Linked DNA regions of Homo sapiens: region 1 is linked to region 2. The links come from fine-mapping of genetic effects on gene expression. Tissue or cell type: whole blood. Region 2 holds a variant in brackets; the other region holds the start of a gene. All regions are shown on one strand. Distances are between the middles of the regions.

Region 1 (8,101 bases), 54 kb after region 2:
CTATCCCCACCTTCTGCAACCCATCACTCTGTTGGTCTTAAATGAAGGGCTGAAAGAGTAATTCAGTCAGAGCATAAATGCTAACAATTTATTAAAATGTAACTCAATTCAGAATTTCCCAGATTGGTAACAACGCCACCACCACCAACAACAAAAAATCATAAGTGGCTTTTCTCATTGTACAGTTTCATTCTCTTAAAACTTCCCTCTTCTCTGGTCTTTGAAGCCTGCCACAGCCCCAAGGTGAGGACATATGAGCTCAGAGGCCTGGAAATGACAAAAGGGGAGAAAACTCCTCTTCCTTGGCTTGTCATTACTTGTCACTGAACCTGGAACAAAGACATAAACCTGCAGAACAGAATCCTGACTTGGTGATTTGGCTTCATGGCCAAATGACAAAGAAAGGGTGTGGGGATTTCAGAGGAAAACTATTGTGGACACAATAGCTCTCCAGCAGAAATGGTATCAGCTTGTAAATATGGAGATCTGAACAGGGGGAAGTAGGTATCTGTCATAGATGTCACAGATGGCAATAAGCCAATTCAGGGGGCGGGGATGTAAAGGAATGGAACGGAATGTTACTCATAGCCAATTTGACAATTATTGAGCACCTGCCAGGTGTAAAGCTCTTTAAGAGTTAAAGGTCCAGCATTCTGATTGCTAAAAACTTCTTACATCTATTGAATCATGTTCTCTTCATCTGTCTTGATTCCCTGGAATCTACATAAAGCTGCTGTCATCAATCACTGAAGTACAATCCACAGACCCATTCCCACTGCCCACCCCCACCCAACCACCCTCAGAAGTCAATTAATTTGCTTTGGCACTGCACTAATACGCCAGAGGGAAGAGAATTCAGGTCTGTTTCCTGATCAGACTCATTGTGGGTAGGAGCAGGAGTGAGGGAAGGATGGGGACAGGATTTGATCTGGACTATATTCAAATCCATGCAAACATGGGCTACTAAAAAGGACTTCTGTGAAGTATTGGAGATCAAATTAATGTGCTGTCTGACTAAGGAAACTCGTAACTCTTGATATGGCAAAATGTGACCAAGAAAATTCTCCAAACCTCAAGCAACTGGTACCAAACAAGTTATCCACTTTCAGACAGGGTTTTCCCCCTATTATGTTTATTGGTGTATTCCCAGTGCCTGGCCCAAAGCAGGTATCCAGTAAATAGTTTTAGCATGAGCTCTGAATGAATATTGCCAACCATTTTCACTGTGATTAGAAAAACGGCTGGGTCGTTACTGAACTGTGAACCTAATAGTAGACAGAGGCTCTCTAAGAGAAGATGACGTTTGTCTGGGCAAGGACATATCCATGGGAATATGTGTGCCATGGTAAACGATGTGCAGAGTCAGGGAGGTAAAGGGAGATAAAGGTTTTCAAAGGAAAAAATGAGAAGGATTATATCATTGTTTTGAAATAATTATCTTTGGCTACAAAGATCAATAAGAAGGGTGACACTGGTCTGAGTTTGCACAAAAAGTTGCTGGGAAGATTTCTTCGAAAAAGTATTTTTTGTGTAAGGTTTTAACGGCCTTTGTGCAAAGTTGTTATTTTTGCAGAGCTTTTGTGATAGTTTTAGTTATCAAGCCTACAAATGTGAGAACCCCCTTTTCATAACCTTCTTTGTGTCTATATATCAGGCTTTGTGCCTGTGTGTGTGTGTGTGTGTGTGTGTGTTTTAACATAAGGAACTCCATTCTGATTCTGACAACTTTCGCAGTACCAAGGGCTTTTACGCATTTCCTCATTCACTGGTACAACCACTGGCTCAGATAAATTCAGTTACTAGCTCCATTTTCAGGTGAAGAAAAATAGGCTTAACAAGGTTATGTTAAAACCAGTGCACTGACACCCAGTGCACTCCCAGGTCAGCTCAACCTGAACCTTTGGGGGCAAAACCCAGGCACTGAGATCCCTTGAAGCTCCCTAGGTAAGTTCAACTTGATCCAAGGTAAGGAACAAAGTTAAGCTGGCCTAGGTCCCCAGCGGGCTGTGAAGGAGCCTAGGTCAGGACGCCAAGCAGCCCAGTCCAGAGCTCACAGTTACCAGCCACTGGGCTGCTTCCCACCCTCAGCTGGTATTCAAAGGAAGAAATGATTCCCTCTCCCTACCTACAGAAAGCCAACGAAGCAGATCATAACCAACAAGCGCATGCAACATTACCTCTGTCCACTCTAAGTACAAACAGAGCAAGCCCATGTGTTTCGAATCCTGACTCCACTAGTTTGTATTCCCATTTAAACAGTGGCAGTTGGGGGCAATGGATTTAGCCATTCCATCCCCATGGGTTTGCTCAAATTGCCTTGGATCCAGACAACTGAGATTTCCTCAATCTTATGTAAAGTGTGAACAGAAGTATCATTATAAAACTTGGCAGGGCGCAGTGTCTCAAGCCTGTCATCCTAACACTTTGGGAGGCTGAGGCAGGCAGATCACTTGAGGTCAGGAGTTTGAGACCAGCCTGGCCAACATGGTGAAACCCTGTCTCTAATAAAAATACAAAAACTAGCCGGGCATGGTGGCGTGCACCTGTAGTCCCAGTACTCGGGAGGCTGAGCCAGGAGGTTGCTTGAACCCAGTAGGAGGAGGTTGCGGTGCACTGAGATGTCACCACGCACTGTAGCCTGGATGACGAGACCCTGTCTCAAAAAAAAAAAAAAATTGTGTGTGTTGGCTGGGTGAGGTGGCTCATGCCTGTAAACCCAACACTTCGGAAGGGCAAGGCGAATAAATCACTTGAGCTTAGGAGTTCGAGACCAGCCTGGGCAACATGGTGAAAATCCATCTCTATAAAAAATACAGAAATTAGCCAGCGTGGTGGTAAGTTACTGTAGTCCCAGCTACTCTTGAGGCTGAGGTGGAAGGATCACCTGAGCCTGGGAGGTTAAAGCTGCAGTGAGCCTTGATCATGCCACTGCACTCCAGCCTGGATGATGAAGCCAGACCCTGTCTCAACAAAAGGAGAAAGAAACAAAGAAAGAAAACACGTGTGTGTTGATGTAATCTCACTAAAAATAGTGTGAACTATATAAATTAGTTTTAAACAGGTCCCTTAGCCTGCTCCCACTGTTGCCCCAAACAGACTGGGACCCTTAACTTCCCTTTATATAAATCCAGAGCCCCTGCTACCTAAGCCATTCTCAAGACAGCCAGCCCTGGGTCCCAGCAGGTCACACTCAGTCCCTCTCCCCTCCCTTAGCCTAGAAGGGGCAGGGCCAGCTTGTGCTTTGCTTTCAGTTCCCTGCACCTGAGCACTAGGCTGCAGGCTCAGCTTACCTGCAGCAGCCACAGCAGCAGCACTAGAAGCAGCAGCAGCGAGGGGTGCCTCCCGGATCTCATGGCCATATGGGAATACCCAAGACAGACCCAGAACGTGCAGCTGATGACCAGTCCTCCAAGCTGGTGGTCTCACCGGAGCCACACACCTCCTTCTCAGCCAGCAGCTTCTTCTCTAAAGGTTTTCAGGTCACTTTGGCCCAGATGCTTTCATCCCATCTTGCTCCTCCCTTTTCAGCTTTTCTTGCATTTATCAGAGTGGGGTGGGCTGACTTGTAAGCTTGAACATACGTTTGCCACAAGTAGAGTTCCTAGGAAGGGTGGGGTAGAAACTAAAGCCACCATGGTCCTGCACGTACACAAAAGACTGGCTGGGGTCTGACCTCAGGAACAACAGCTCAGCCAGCGGAAGTAAAACCAGCACCTATCGGAAAGCAGAATTATTTGTTTCTTTGTTTCCTTGTTTGTTCTGGTTTCCAAATAGAAGGTCCAATCATCTCTTTCTATAGCAGGATATGTTAGTGACTATTTTCTATAATCTTATCCTCTTGAACCAAACAAAAAAAACTAGAAAATGACAAGAATGATAACTTTATTAAGGGGGAAGGGATGGGGAAGAATGAAAGAAAAGAAAAATCAACTTTTACTTTCCAAAGCACTAAAAATCGTTATTCCAACAATATCCCAGGGCTCTGGGGTTTTCAAATTATTTCTACTAAAACCTTTTTTAAGCTTAGATTAATCTGCCTTTTTGAGTTTGGAATTAAAGTGGGAGGGAGGAGAGATGGGAAAGAGCCTCCCTATGGACAGGGATCTCTGTGGCAACCCGGGAGTCTTTGCATGAGAATTCTGAAAGAGACAATTTGAGATTATATTATACCAATACTTAAGGTTGCAGTAAGCAAGTTTTAAAACACAATCTGTGATACATTAACCCTGATTACCTTAACATGACCTTTTTATCACATTACCTTGTTTAAAGTAGTAAACAGATAAAATAAAAGGTAAACTTTCTTTGCTTGTTCTAGATATTGGCTTAGGCAAGGATTTCATGACCAAGAACCAAAAAGCAAATGCAATAAAATCAAAGATAAATAGCTGGGACCTAATTAAACTAAAGAGCTTTTGCACTGCAAAAGGAACAGTCAGCAGAGTAAACAGACAACCCACAGAGTGGGAGAAAATCTTCACAATCTATACATCTGACAAAGGATTAATATCCAGAATCCACAATGAACTCCAACAAATCAGTAAGAAAAAAACAATCCCATCAAAAAGTGGGATAAGGACATGAATAGACAATTCTCAAAAGAAGATATACAAATGGTCAACAAGCATATGAAAAAATGCTCAACATCACCAATGATCAGCAAAACGCAAATCAAAACCGCAGTGCGATACCACCTTACTCCTGCAAGAATGACCATAATCAAAAAATCAAAAAACAGTAGACGTTGGTGTGGATGTGACAATCAGGGAACACTTCTACACTGCTGGGGGGAATATAACATAGTACAGCTGCTATGGAAAACAGTGTGGAGATTCCTTAAAGAACAAAAGTAGAACTACCATTTGATCCAGCAATCCCACTACTGGGTATCTTCCCAGAGGAAAAGAAGTCATTATTCGAAAAAGATACTTGCACATGCACGTTTATAGCAGCAAAATTCACAATTGCAAAATCGTGGAACCAACCCAAATGCCCATCAATCAACTAGTGGATAAAGAAAATGTGTATATGCGTATCTATATGTATATATACACATATATGCGTGTATATATGTGTATGTACATATATACACATATATGTGTGTATATATGTGTATGTACATATATACACGCATATATGTATATATACACATATATGTGTATATATGTGTATGTACATATATACACATATATACATACATATATACACACATATATGTATATATATACATACACATATATACACACATATATGTATATATATACATACACATATATATACACATATATATGTATATATATGTGTATATACAGATATATATGATGGAATACTACTCAGCCATAAAAAGGAATGAATTAACAGCATTTGCAGTGACCTGGATGAGATTGGAGACTATTATTCTAAATGAAGTAACTCAGGAATGGAAAATCAAACATTGTATATTCTCACTGATTTGTGGGAGCTAAGCTATGAGGACACAAAGGCATAAGAATCATACAATGGACTTTGGGGAATTGGGGGGAAGAGTGGGAAGAGGGTGAGGGATAAAAGACAACAAATATGGTGCAGTGTATACTGCTTGGGTGATGGGTGCACCAGGATCTCACAAATCTCCACTGAAAAACTTACTCATGTAACCAATATGCCACCTGTACCCCAATAACTTATGGAAAAATAAAATTAAAAAATAAAAATAAAAAAGAACTCATCAAAAATAAAATATAAAATAAAAATCTCCCAATTAAAAAAAAAAAACTTTCTTTGCTTAACTGAACATTCATAGCTCTGAGATGCTGCTGAATATTTTAATTTGAATAGTTTATTTTTATTGAAATTAATAGCTTATTATTGAAAAGAATAATAAATACAACTTTAAAGTCTATAGATATTTCCTGTGCATAAAGAGAAACTGAATACCTTGTGCCTATTTTCAAAGTGGATATTTCTATAATGATAGCCTATTTTTAAAAAACTGATTAAGTTAGAATCACTAATTTAGAATATATAAGTCAGGTGAGCTAAACCATGTTAAATATATGTGAAAAAACCACGTCAGTTGAGCACTCCCTGCTGCTAGAATAGCGCTGGGGACTAAAATATTGTTGCTAGAAAGGCATTAGCCTCACAATGTTCTAGTCTGGGCGGAGCTGGGGGACAACAGTGAAGGATTCCACTTTCACATTCGTTTTAAGTTTAAAAGAAATTGGTATTTTAAAATTAGCCGGGCATGGTGGCACACACCTGTAATCCCAACTACTCCGGAGGCTGAGGCAGGGGAATCCCTTGAACCCGGGAGGCGGAGGTTGCAGTGAGCTGAGATCACATCATTGCACTCCAGCCTTAGGCAACAAGAGTGAAACTCCATCTCAAAACAAAACAAAACAAAAAACACCATAGGAACTGGTATTTTAATATATTAGAAACAAACAAGTTTTCAACATTCTCAAGCGTTTAAAATAACTAAGCAGAATGCCAGTTCCCCACACGGCAACCCTACTTGGGTAGGCCACGGGGCCTGGAACTCAGCTGGTGATTCTGGGCATCACCTGCTGCACATCTTGGGTGAGCCTGAGCTTGAAGATGTCCCCACTCCCTTTCTATTCTGAGCATGTGATCATAGTGACAATAGTCTAGCGCTCCTTTCTGTGTCCTTGGAAGTACAGTAATACTTTATAGCCACATGGTGGCAGCTCCCAGCTCCCTGTAAGCTGACAAGTGAAGAAATGAGATTGCTCATGAGATAAAAGTTACTTGATTGCAAGGGAGGTATGAGCTACAATTACCTACCCAGGGTCAACCTTCTCATGTTTTTGAGGAGTGCCCCCAGCCACCTCCAGTTCTCACTGTTCTTTTTTTAGTAATGATGATTGCATCATGAGGCATCCCCACCCGGCTTGGATTTCTGCGTGGACAGTGGTCTGGCTGGCCAGGCCTCATGCCCAGCTGAAAGGAGGGGAACTTAGGTGGACAGTGGGACTGAGGGAAGATGACAAATGCACCTGACTCTGCCTACCTTTGGCATTTTCCATATGGATCAAGTAAACACCAGAGAAGTAAAGCGCTAGGCTCAAGCCTTCTTTCCTGGCTGGGGAGGTGAGAAGGCTGGCATTCGATGCCTCCTCTGCAGAGGTGAGCCAGCCGCAGTGAAAGGCTGGGAGAGTGGCCTGTTACAGAGGACAGGCCTTAGGCTTTCCCTTAGTCTCTCTTTCTGTCACCAACGCTAGGGGAGGCAGAGCCTGGAAGAGGGAGGGAGCAGAGGTGTCCCAACAGCAAAGCACCACCATGCCTTAGGATCTCAGTGCTGGGTTGGAAGGTGAGGAGGGGCTGCCCAAGCCTCCCCTGCCCACACACCCACCTGGGAGTCCAGCCCACCCAGGGTGGATGGAAGAGATTAGATTTCCATCAAGGCTGACATCGAAGTTTTAAGCTGGGCTGGTTTTACTGACTGACGTGACTGGGTAATGATGAGCCCCAGTTGTAACTGAGGGATTGAAATGGTTTGGTTGAAGGCTCAGATTAAGGAAGAATAAAATGGCTCATGCTTATATGTCCCCTGAGTCAAGACCTTTCTATATTCACTAACACAAAAATAATTTTCCAGCCAATACTTCTGAATTCAATTCCCGTTTCTTCATAGTCACAAGAAAAGTTTAATTTCTCAGAACACTCTTGAGAAGGGTTTTTAAAATAATCAGGGAAGAGTTCTGCTTCCAGTAGTGGTGAAGTAGGTTCAACTCTGCCATAGACATAGCAGCTATTAACATAATATAAAACAGGGCTGGGCGCAGTGGCTCATGTCTATAATCCCAGCACTTTGGGAGGCTGAGGCAGGTGGATCACCTGAGGTCAGGAGTTTGAGACCAGCCTGGCCAACATGGTGAACCCCTGTCTCTACTAAAAATACAAAAAAATTAGCCAGGTGTGGTGACACATGGCCAGCTACTTGGGAGGCTGAGGCAGGAGAATCGCTGAGGTGGAGGTTGCAGTGAGCCGAAATCAAGCCATCGCACTCCATCCTGGGCAACAAGAGTGAAACTCTGTCTCTTTCTCTCTCTCTCTCTCTCTCTCTCTCTCTCTCTCTCTCTCTCTCTCTCTCTCTCTC
Region 2 (8,107 bases):
CAAAGACCTAAATGTGAGACCCAAAACTATAAGACTATTGGAAGAAAATCTAGGGAAAATGCTTCAGGAAATTGGTCTTGTAAAAAAACTTATGAGTAAGACCTCGAAAGCATAGACAACAAAAGCAAAAATAATCAAATAGGATTATATCAAACGAAAAATTTTCTGCACAGCAAAGGAAACTACAGAGTGAAAAGTTAACGTACAAAATGGGAGAAAATATCTGCAAACTATTTATCCAATAAGGGGTTATTATCTGGAATACACGAGGAGCTCAAATATCTCAACAGCAAAATAAAAAGAATCCAATTTTAAAATGGGTAAATGATCTGAACAGATGTTTCTCAAAAGACATAAAATGGCCAAAAAATATATGAAAAACTGCTTAACATCATGAATGGTCAGGAAAAGGCACATCAAACCCACAATGAGGTATTATCTCATCCCAGTTAGGATAGCTACTATCAAAGAGTCAAAAATAGCCAATGCTGGGCCAGATGCAGTGGCTCACACCTTTAATCCCAGCACTTTGGTAGGCTGAGGTGGGCGGATCACCTGAGGTCAGTAGATAGAGACCAGCCTGGCCAACATGGCAAAACCCCATCTCTACTAAAAATACAAAAAATTAACTGGGCGTGGTGGCTCATGCCTGAAGTCCCAGCTACTTGGGAGGCTGAGACAGGAGAATTGCTTCAACCCAGGAAGTGGAGAGGTTGCAGTGAGCTGAGATTGCACTACTGCACTCCAGCCTGGGCAATAAAGTGAGACTTTGTCTCAAACAAAATTTTTAATTAAATTAAATAAAGAAAAGAAAGCAAATGCTGGTGAGGTTGCTGAGTAAAGGGAACCCATACGCTGTTGGTAGGAATGTAAATTAGTACAGGCACTTTGGAGAAGAGTATGGAGGTTCCTCAAAAACTCTACAAATAGAACTACAATATAATTCAAAAATCCTACTACTGGGCATTTGTCCAGAGGAAAGGAAATCTGTATTTTGAAGAGACATCTGCACCTCATGTTTATTACACCACTATTCACAATAGCCAAGATGTGGAATCAACCTAGCTGTCCAAAGGCAGATGAATGCATGAAGAAAGCATGGTATATATACACAATGAAATATTATTCAGCCACTAAAATAAAAAAATTCTGTCATTTATGGCAACATGGATGAAGCTGGAGGACATTATGTTAAGAGAAATAAGCCAGCTGCAGAAAGTTGAAAATCACATGTCCTCACACATATGTGGAAGCTAAAACCAAGTTTATCTCGGAAGTAGAAGGTAGAACAGAGGACACAGCAGCTGGGAAGGGTGGGGGGAAAGAGGGATAGGGAGAGATTTATTAAAGGATACAAAATTACAGCAAATTATTCCTAGGAGGAATACGTTCTAGCACTCTATACCATTATATGTTGCCTATAGTTAACAATAATACATAGTTTTAGATAGCTAGAAGGGGGATGGATATTGAATGCTCCGTACCAATACAAAGAAATGAAAAATGTTTGAGCCAATGATTACGTTAACCACCCTGATCTGATCACTGTAAATGTATTGAAACATGACTATGTACCCCCTAAATATGTACAATTATTATATGTCAATTATTTAAAATGAAATAATAAAGTTTTAAAATGAGATAATTTTTTAAAAATCTACAGGGGACAGAATGAAAGAGGCAAGTATAAGGAGGCAATCGAATAAACTAATGTTTACTTTGTTTTGTTGTCCAAAAACATGTATTTTTCTTAAAAAAAAAAATACTTTTATCCTGAATTACCCAGAAAATGCCCTAGACTGTCCTCTGAGTCATGCTAGGATCAGTACAGCTGTTCTACACATTCAAGCGTCCCATTCAGACATTCCAGTGCTTTAAATGTGATTTTTCTTCTTTTTCAGCTTCCCAAAGCAGAGGAAGACTGAGGTAACCAGGTAGGAAAAGGCCAGATCTCCTTAAAAAGAAGTATTTGCACAGCTTCTTCAAAAAGAAGGAGAAAGTTTTAACTCTGAGCTGTAACTCACTGTTTAACATAATGCTTCACTGATTCACCAGCAAACATGTTTCTACTGATTTATTTTAGGGCATGAGAGACGGCATTTGCTCATTAATTATATAAAATTTTTATATGGCTGTAGACTTTTAGATATCCAATATGTGCATTAAAGTGTCCAAATAGCATTTTAAACTTTGCTTAGTCAGTCTCTTATCTATTACTCAGACTAGAAAACTGACTATTTTTAGGGCATATGTCCCCTATTAAGATTTTTAAAAGAAACCATTTCTTCCCCTGAAACTGACACTAGCAGTAAGTGGACAAGTAAAAACCAATTAAATTTTGTGGTTTTGTTTAAAGATAAAATCTAATCAGAACTTACTCATTCAAAGGCTCCTAACTCTTTTACTTACATAATACATACAAGTTAAATTATGTCAGCTCTTCATTTTTTAAAGAGTATACTGTTTATAAAGCTTTCAGCATAATCATTTTTCTCAAGATAACATATTTTATCTATTTATCTAATCAAAAAGTGAACAGGGACCAATACTTATTTTTTAAAAAATCACTTCAAATACTGACTACAAATGTTATAGAAAAAATTTCTCTATTTACCTAAGTTTTCCCTTAAATGGAAGCAGAATCATAATCATAGAAATGTAAGTAACGTTTTCAAAATCTATTTTTATTTTTCTTCAGTATTACCTGCTGTTCCCAAGTGGCTGGGTAATCTATGGGTTATATTTTCATTTACCCTCAAAGCTAGGCTGCCAGTGGAAGCTAAGAATAACACAATTAAATTCAAGTTTCTCTAGAAAATATGACAAATCAAATTTTAAGAAAGTGTAACTTGTGGTTTTGCTTTGGTTCAAGATGGCTGATCTGAGAATATCAAAGCATTTAATTCAAACTAATAGTGTGTCCTCATCCTAGGACTAGAAGGTAATTTTTCTTTTAAGGAGGGAAAAGAAGAGCAAAGGGGAAAAATCCCTGAATAGTGATTCCCTTCCATGAATTATTTCAATTCTCCAAAATAGACTTTTTTTTTTAGGAAGGAACACCTGACTCTGAATATATTTCCTCAAACGGAGTCGCTTTTGAACCCAAAGAGTCCAGCAAATCAGGTTGCAACTCCTGTTCCAAGCTGGCCAGAGAGCTGAGGGATGGGGCCCCTCCACACTCCCCTTCCTCGCTGTAGACGTGAGGTAGGTAGCCGGGGTCATCTTCCAGCACATTGGCAACATGGAGTTTCTGGGGAAAAGTGGGGGAAAGAGAAGGTAAATGCCATGTGCTTCCATACCCAGCTCATTTCTCTAGGTTTGATTCGAGGAACACATCAATGCAGTAG[T/C]AACAGCACTCAGGCCCCGTGTCCTCAGCTGACACAGGAGTTCGTACAGTTCCAGAAGTGGCAGCCATGCTGAGGGGAGACATCCCACCTTACAGTCTGAGAGGGAACTGTGACACAGTGGTGGCCGCCCCAGGAGTATGACAGGAGCCCCCAGGAGGACCTCCCACCTGCTCCCACCCTCTTGCAGATTCATTCCTTGAGGCTCGCCCTTCCCTGTCCTGTGCCCTGGACACCTCCCCTTCCATGACCCCCCGGCCCTCGTTTGGACAACTGTCCCCTCTCTCTTCATCTTTACCTGGCCTCTTGCTGTGGGCTCCTTTCTCCCGACCCACAAATGTGCTCAGGTCTATCCTTCAATCTGCTCATACTTCACAGCCTCCCTGCAAGAAAGGGCGGCCACCACTTCCTGCCACCCCTTTCTCACCCATGTGGCTCCTCAAACCACTGCCCTCCAGTCTCCCCATTCATGCTCAGGCCATGGCTTCATCCATCCCTAACCAATGGTGATGTCCCCGTCACCATCTCTCTCTGTGACACTCCCTACAGTCACATCCAGAGCCAGAATTCCAACCAGACAGCTCCACAAGGACATCCACAGAGACCTCAGACTCAACATCCTGGAAACCACTGTGGTTTTGCCCACAACCTACATCTCCTCCTCCCACGTCCCTCCCTCAATGCTCGCCAAGTGCAGTGCGCACCCCCTGTTACAGGGGCTAGCCGGCTACAAGCCAGGGGATAATCCAGCACACCACCTGTTGTTGTAAATTAAGTTCTACTGGAGCACGGCCAAGACCGTTTATTTGTGTATCATCTGTGGCTGCTTTCACGGAACAATGGCAGGGCTGAGCTGTGGGAACTGGCCTTCAAATCCTACAGGATTTACTATCTGGCCCTTTATAGGAAGTTCACTGACCCCTGCATCATTAGATGATTTCGATGGTATCAGAACACATATTTATTTGAGTGAATGGCCATTTTATCGTATATTTCAAAACACAATAACAAGCACGCCAAATCCATGATTTCACACTAGCTGATTGTAAAGCCAAAAGCTAATTAACATGTGAGCTGATTTACAGAAATGCATTAAATACATCATAGTGAGTGGGTTAAACACAAGCGTGACAGTAGTGACAGAATGACCAAAGTTCATGAAACTCTAGCCTGACTTAAGTCAGGACATCCCCTACAGCCCAGCTGCTCAACCTTGAAACCTAGAGTCATCACCAACTCTCCCCTGCCCCATCCTCTCAAATGCTCGGCAGTATTTCTAGTTCTGTCCCCTCTCCTCCAGCCCCATGGCCAATGCCTGAGGATAGGTCCCTATCTCCACTCATTGGGGCGAGAGTGGCAAGTTCACTAAACTCATTTCTTGTTCTTCTGGTCACCCGGCAAGATCACATTTCCTGCCTCTCTGCTAGATGTGGCTACGTGACTGATGAAATAGGGATGTCAGGGACACGTACCTGGCCATGAAAGCCTCCCCAAGAGCCTCTGTTCTTTCTCTGTCCTCCAGCCCCATTTCCAGTTCTGAGTGGTGGCAGAGCCACAGAGTGGGAGGACCCTGGGCAGGCTCCGGCTCGACACCCACCCTGATGTGTGACGTGAGCCAGAGGTGCCTGCTCTGCGCATTAAGCCACCCTGCTCTGGGGTTGCCATGGCTTTCTCCCTCCAAACAGCCCTCTTCTCACCATCTCCTCCTCTCCCCAACCTCTCCTGCCTTAGGTCCACCCTCTGCACAAACCCCAGAAACATTTCCTAGGCTTCATATCTGCTCATTCCTGTCTGCCTAGAATCCTAGACAGCCCTCCTCTGCCAATCTCCAACCCAGCAAACTCCAGCTCAGCATTCAGGACCCAAGTCATCTCTCTGTGAAGACTTTTCTGGCCTGAGTGATTCAATAAATAGGGGAGTGGAGGGGAGGGGAGGGGAGAGGGACTTTAGCCTATTTACCTTCTAATACCTCTAGAGGGTGCTATCTGAACCCAGCGCCAGTTCTACAGACCTTGGCAGGAATGGGTTTAGTGGGAGCCTGTCTAATCCGTCACTGCTGATAGTAATTCTGAGAGGGTGAGCTCATGTAGGGCATGAAAACAGTCAGAATCCTGGGGCTCAAGCCCAAGGTGGGAGGTGGGGAGGGCCTGGAAAGGGCAGCTCTGGGGCCCCAGGGACCCCATGCGTGTCCCCATTCTGATGGGACCCCTGGGCTTCCAAGCTCTTAACTATGCCCCCCGCCCCGCCCCACCCAGTGACTGCAACAAGCTGTCTCCAGCTTCCTCTGGTTCTCAGGAGCCCTGCCTGGGCCCTTGTTTAGTGGGAAATGCTGTCTCCCCGCCCCAGTCTACTGCTATGTCAGGCTTGGTGCCCACGAGAAGCGCGGGAATGCTCACCTGCACATCTGGCCCATTGACTGGGTCTGCTTACTCAGGGACTGTGGTCACTGTCTGACCATATGGCATGGGGGAGCTGGGGGCAGGGGGAGGAAAGAAAGTTTTTACGGCAAAACCAGCAGATACACAAGCTCTGGCCTACGTGTTAGGAGTCGGTTCACGTCCTTGCAGTGAAGCTGAATAGATAATTAGCGACAGACCTGGTGTGTGCAGAGCAAAACAGAATCTGCAGTGGGGGCTGTGCTGGGTGGATTCAACTTCAAAACCCCCAGGCTGACAGCAGAGCAGTGGATGTCTGCACCCTGATTCAGCAACTTTGGAGGCCTCATCAGATCAATAATTCATCATACACCACCATCCAAGTTAGAGGGCTCACAAGGAAAGAACAGGGCCCTCTAATCTGGTGTTCCCTCCTCTCACACCACCAAGCAGAGCTTCGAGCTTCCATTGAATAAAGCTGCCTCCCTGCCCCGCAGAGGGAGGAGGGGGGCCCGCGGCTGGAACACGTCCCTCTCCTGCTCAGCCAGGCAGGACCTGCGATACTGTCCACACAGTCCACTTGGCATGAGCGGTATGTGTGCATGTGCATGCGTTCACGTGTGTGTGCGCAAATGTGAAAATGGGTAAGCTGGATACTACGTGATGATCACCACATGCTACGTTTTCTGTAGAGACATGATCTGGTCTGCACAGAGCTTCACCCGAGAGTGTAGCAGAGCTGCCCCAACTCTCCTTTGTAGATGAGAAATTAAGGCTCAGAGAGGAGACTTCCCTGACCCTGCTTAATGATCAGGTGGGCCCGTCTGTAGTCGGCCACTCTGTGCCCCATTTCTGGCTCTGTCCCTCGTGCCTTTACCATTGGAGCAACTTGTCTGAGCCTCCATTTTTGGATTCATCTACCACATTGGGTTATAGTGAAAATGGTTCTTTCATTGCTTCTTCAGTGACCCCTGTGTCATGCACCAGTAATGACACAGCCTGGCCCTCAGGGAGGTTACAGTCGGCTCGGGAGAGACACATGGAAATTTCCCCGCAGCTCATCCTTCATCTTCCTCACCAGCAGTCAGGACCTGGGGAAGGGCCCTGCAGCCCTGAGTCTGTGGGTACACAGCCCCCTTCTGCAGGAGCCTGGCTTGCCTGCTTTTAGGCAAAGCTTCTAGGCCCGGAGAAGATGTCTGTGTTGTCTTGAAGCAGGTGCCAGGCAGCACCCATTCTGCAGGGCTAAGGAGTGGGAGTGAGAAGGGGCCAAGCCTACAGCACCTTTGGGGCTGTCACTGGGGCACAGAGCTGGAGCTCCCACCTGGGGACTGTGACAGGAACCAGAGGAAGCAACATTGGGGAAACCCCAGACAGTGACTCTACATCCAGACACAGTCTGGGCTCACTTCCTCAGGCCACAGTGTTCACAGCCCTGTCTGTCATCCACTCTGACAACCACAGCAGGAGACGTCCAGGCTCACCAATGGGTTTCACAAAACAGGATCCCAGGACCTCAAGTCAGAGGCTCAGATGCGCACCCCAGACCCACTACAGCAGGGTCCACAGAGTTGGTACTGGGGATTGCTGCTTTTTAATGAGCCCCCTAAGTGCCTAGACCCTGGAGCCCAGTTGCCTGTATTTGAGCCCCAAATCTACTGCTTTCTGTGGCTGTGACCTTGGACACATTACCCAACTTCTTTGTTCCTGGGTTTCCACATGTTATAAAAAGGCATATGACAGCACCTCCCCCAATAGGCTGATGTGCAGACTAAGAGTTAACATCTTTCAAGTCCTCAGAACAGAGTCTACAACAAAGTGAGTATTATACACGTGTTTGCCAAAAAAATAAGTCTGGCCTGACAGAGACTGTCTACATTTATGTCTTCCTTTGTGCTTATCATTCCATAGGCCTGAGTTCCCACTGCCCTGCAACAGGAGGAGCTGCTTAGAGTCAGAATGGCCTGGGCAGCTTCTTGGTACCTCCTTCCCCAAGCAGGGGGCATGCAGAGCCTCCATGACACGAGCATGTGGACTGGCTCTGCCCTATCCATGTAAACCTGCCCATGGGTTTGCCCAGCTCCCAAGCTGCTTTCTAATCTTCCCAGGAGTACGCAGTGGCTGTGTTGATGGACCTTTCAGGATGTACCCAAAATCAGAATCTCACATAATAGACCCCTTCAGCGCAGTCAAACTACATCTTTCACAATTTTGCAGGAAAAGACCCTTCATTCTGAGGTAGGAGGCCAGCAGGTCTTGTTTTCTGGTCACAACCCTGCTGACCAAAACAGGATCTGGTCCAGATGGGATGAAGTTAAAAAAAAAAAACCAGCAGAAACCAGCAGATGAGACGAAAGTGAACCCTGGATGCCCTCATTGCTCACTGGTGCA

The links. PIP is the estimated chance that this variant, and not a neighbour inherited with it, causes the effect.
Region 1: CDH26 starts here. The variant in region 2 is fine-mapped to the expression of CDH26 in whole blood (TOPMed, PIP above 0.99).

What each region holds. Positions count from the first base shown.
Region 1 is chr20:59,953,985-59,962,085 of GRCh38, reverse strand. It overlaps CDH26 (cadherin 26), which reads right to left and starts at 3,663. Exons shown (of 18, transcript NM_177980.4): 1 at 3,291-3,663. The coding sequence starts at 3,359. RefSeq lists an enhancer at 7,121-7,622.
Region 2 is chr20:60,007,670-60,015,776 of GRCh38, reverse strand. It overlaps CDH26 (cadherin 26), which reads right to left. Exons shown (of 18, transcript NM_177980.4): 18 at 1,248-3,250. The coding sequence ends at 3,047. Among named protein-coding and RNA genes, the nearest start is that of LINC02910, 44 kb to the left of the region's middle. The variant T/C (reference allele first, on the strand shown) is at 3,348.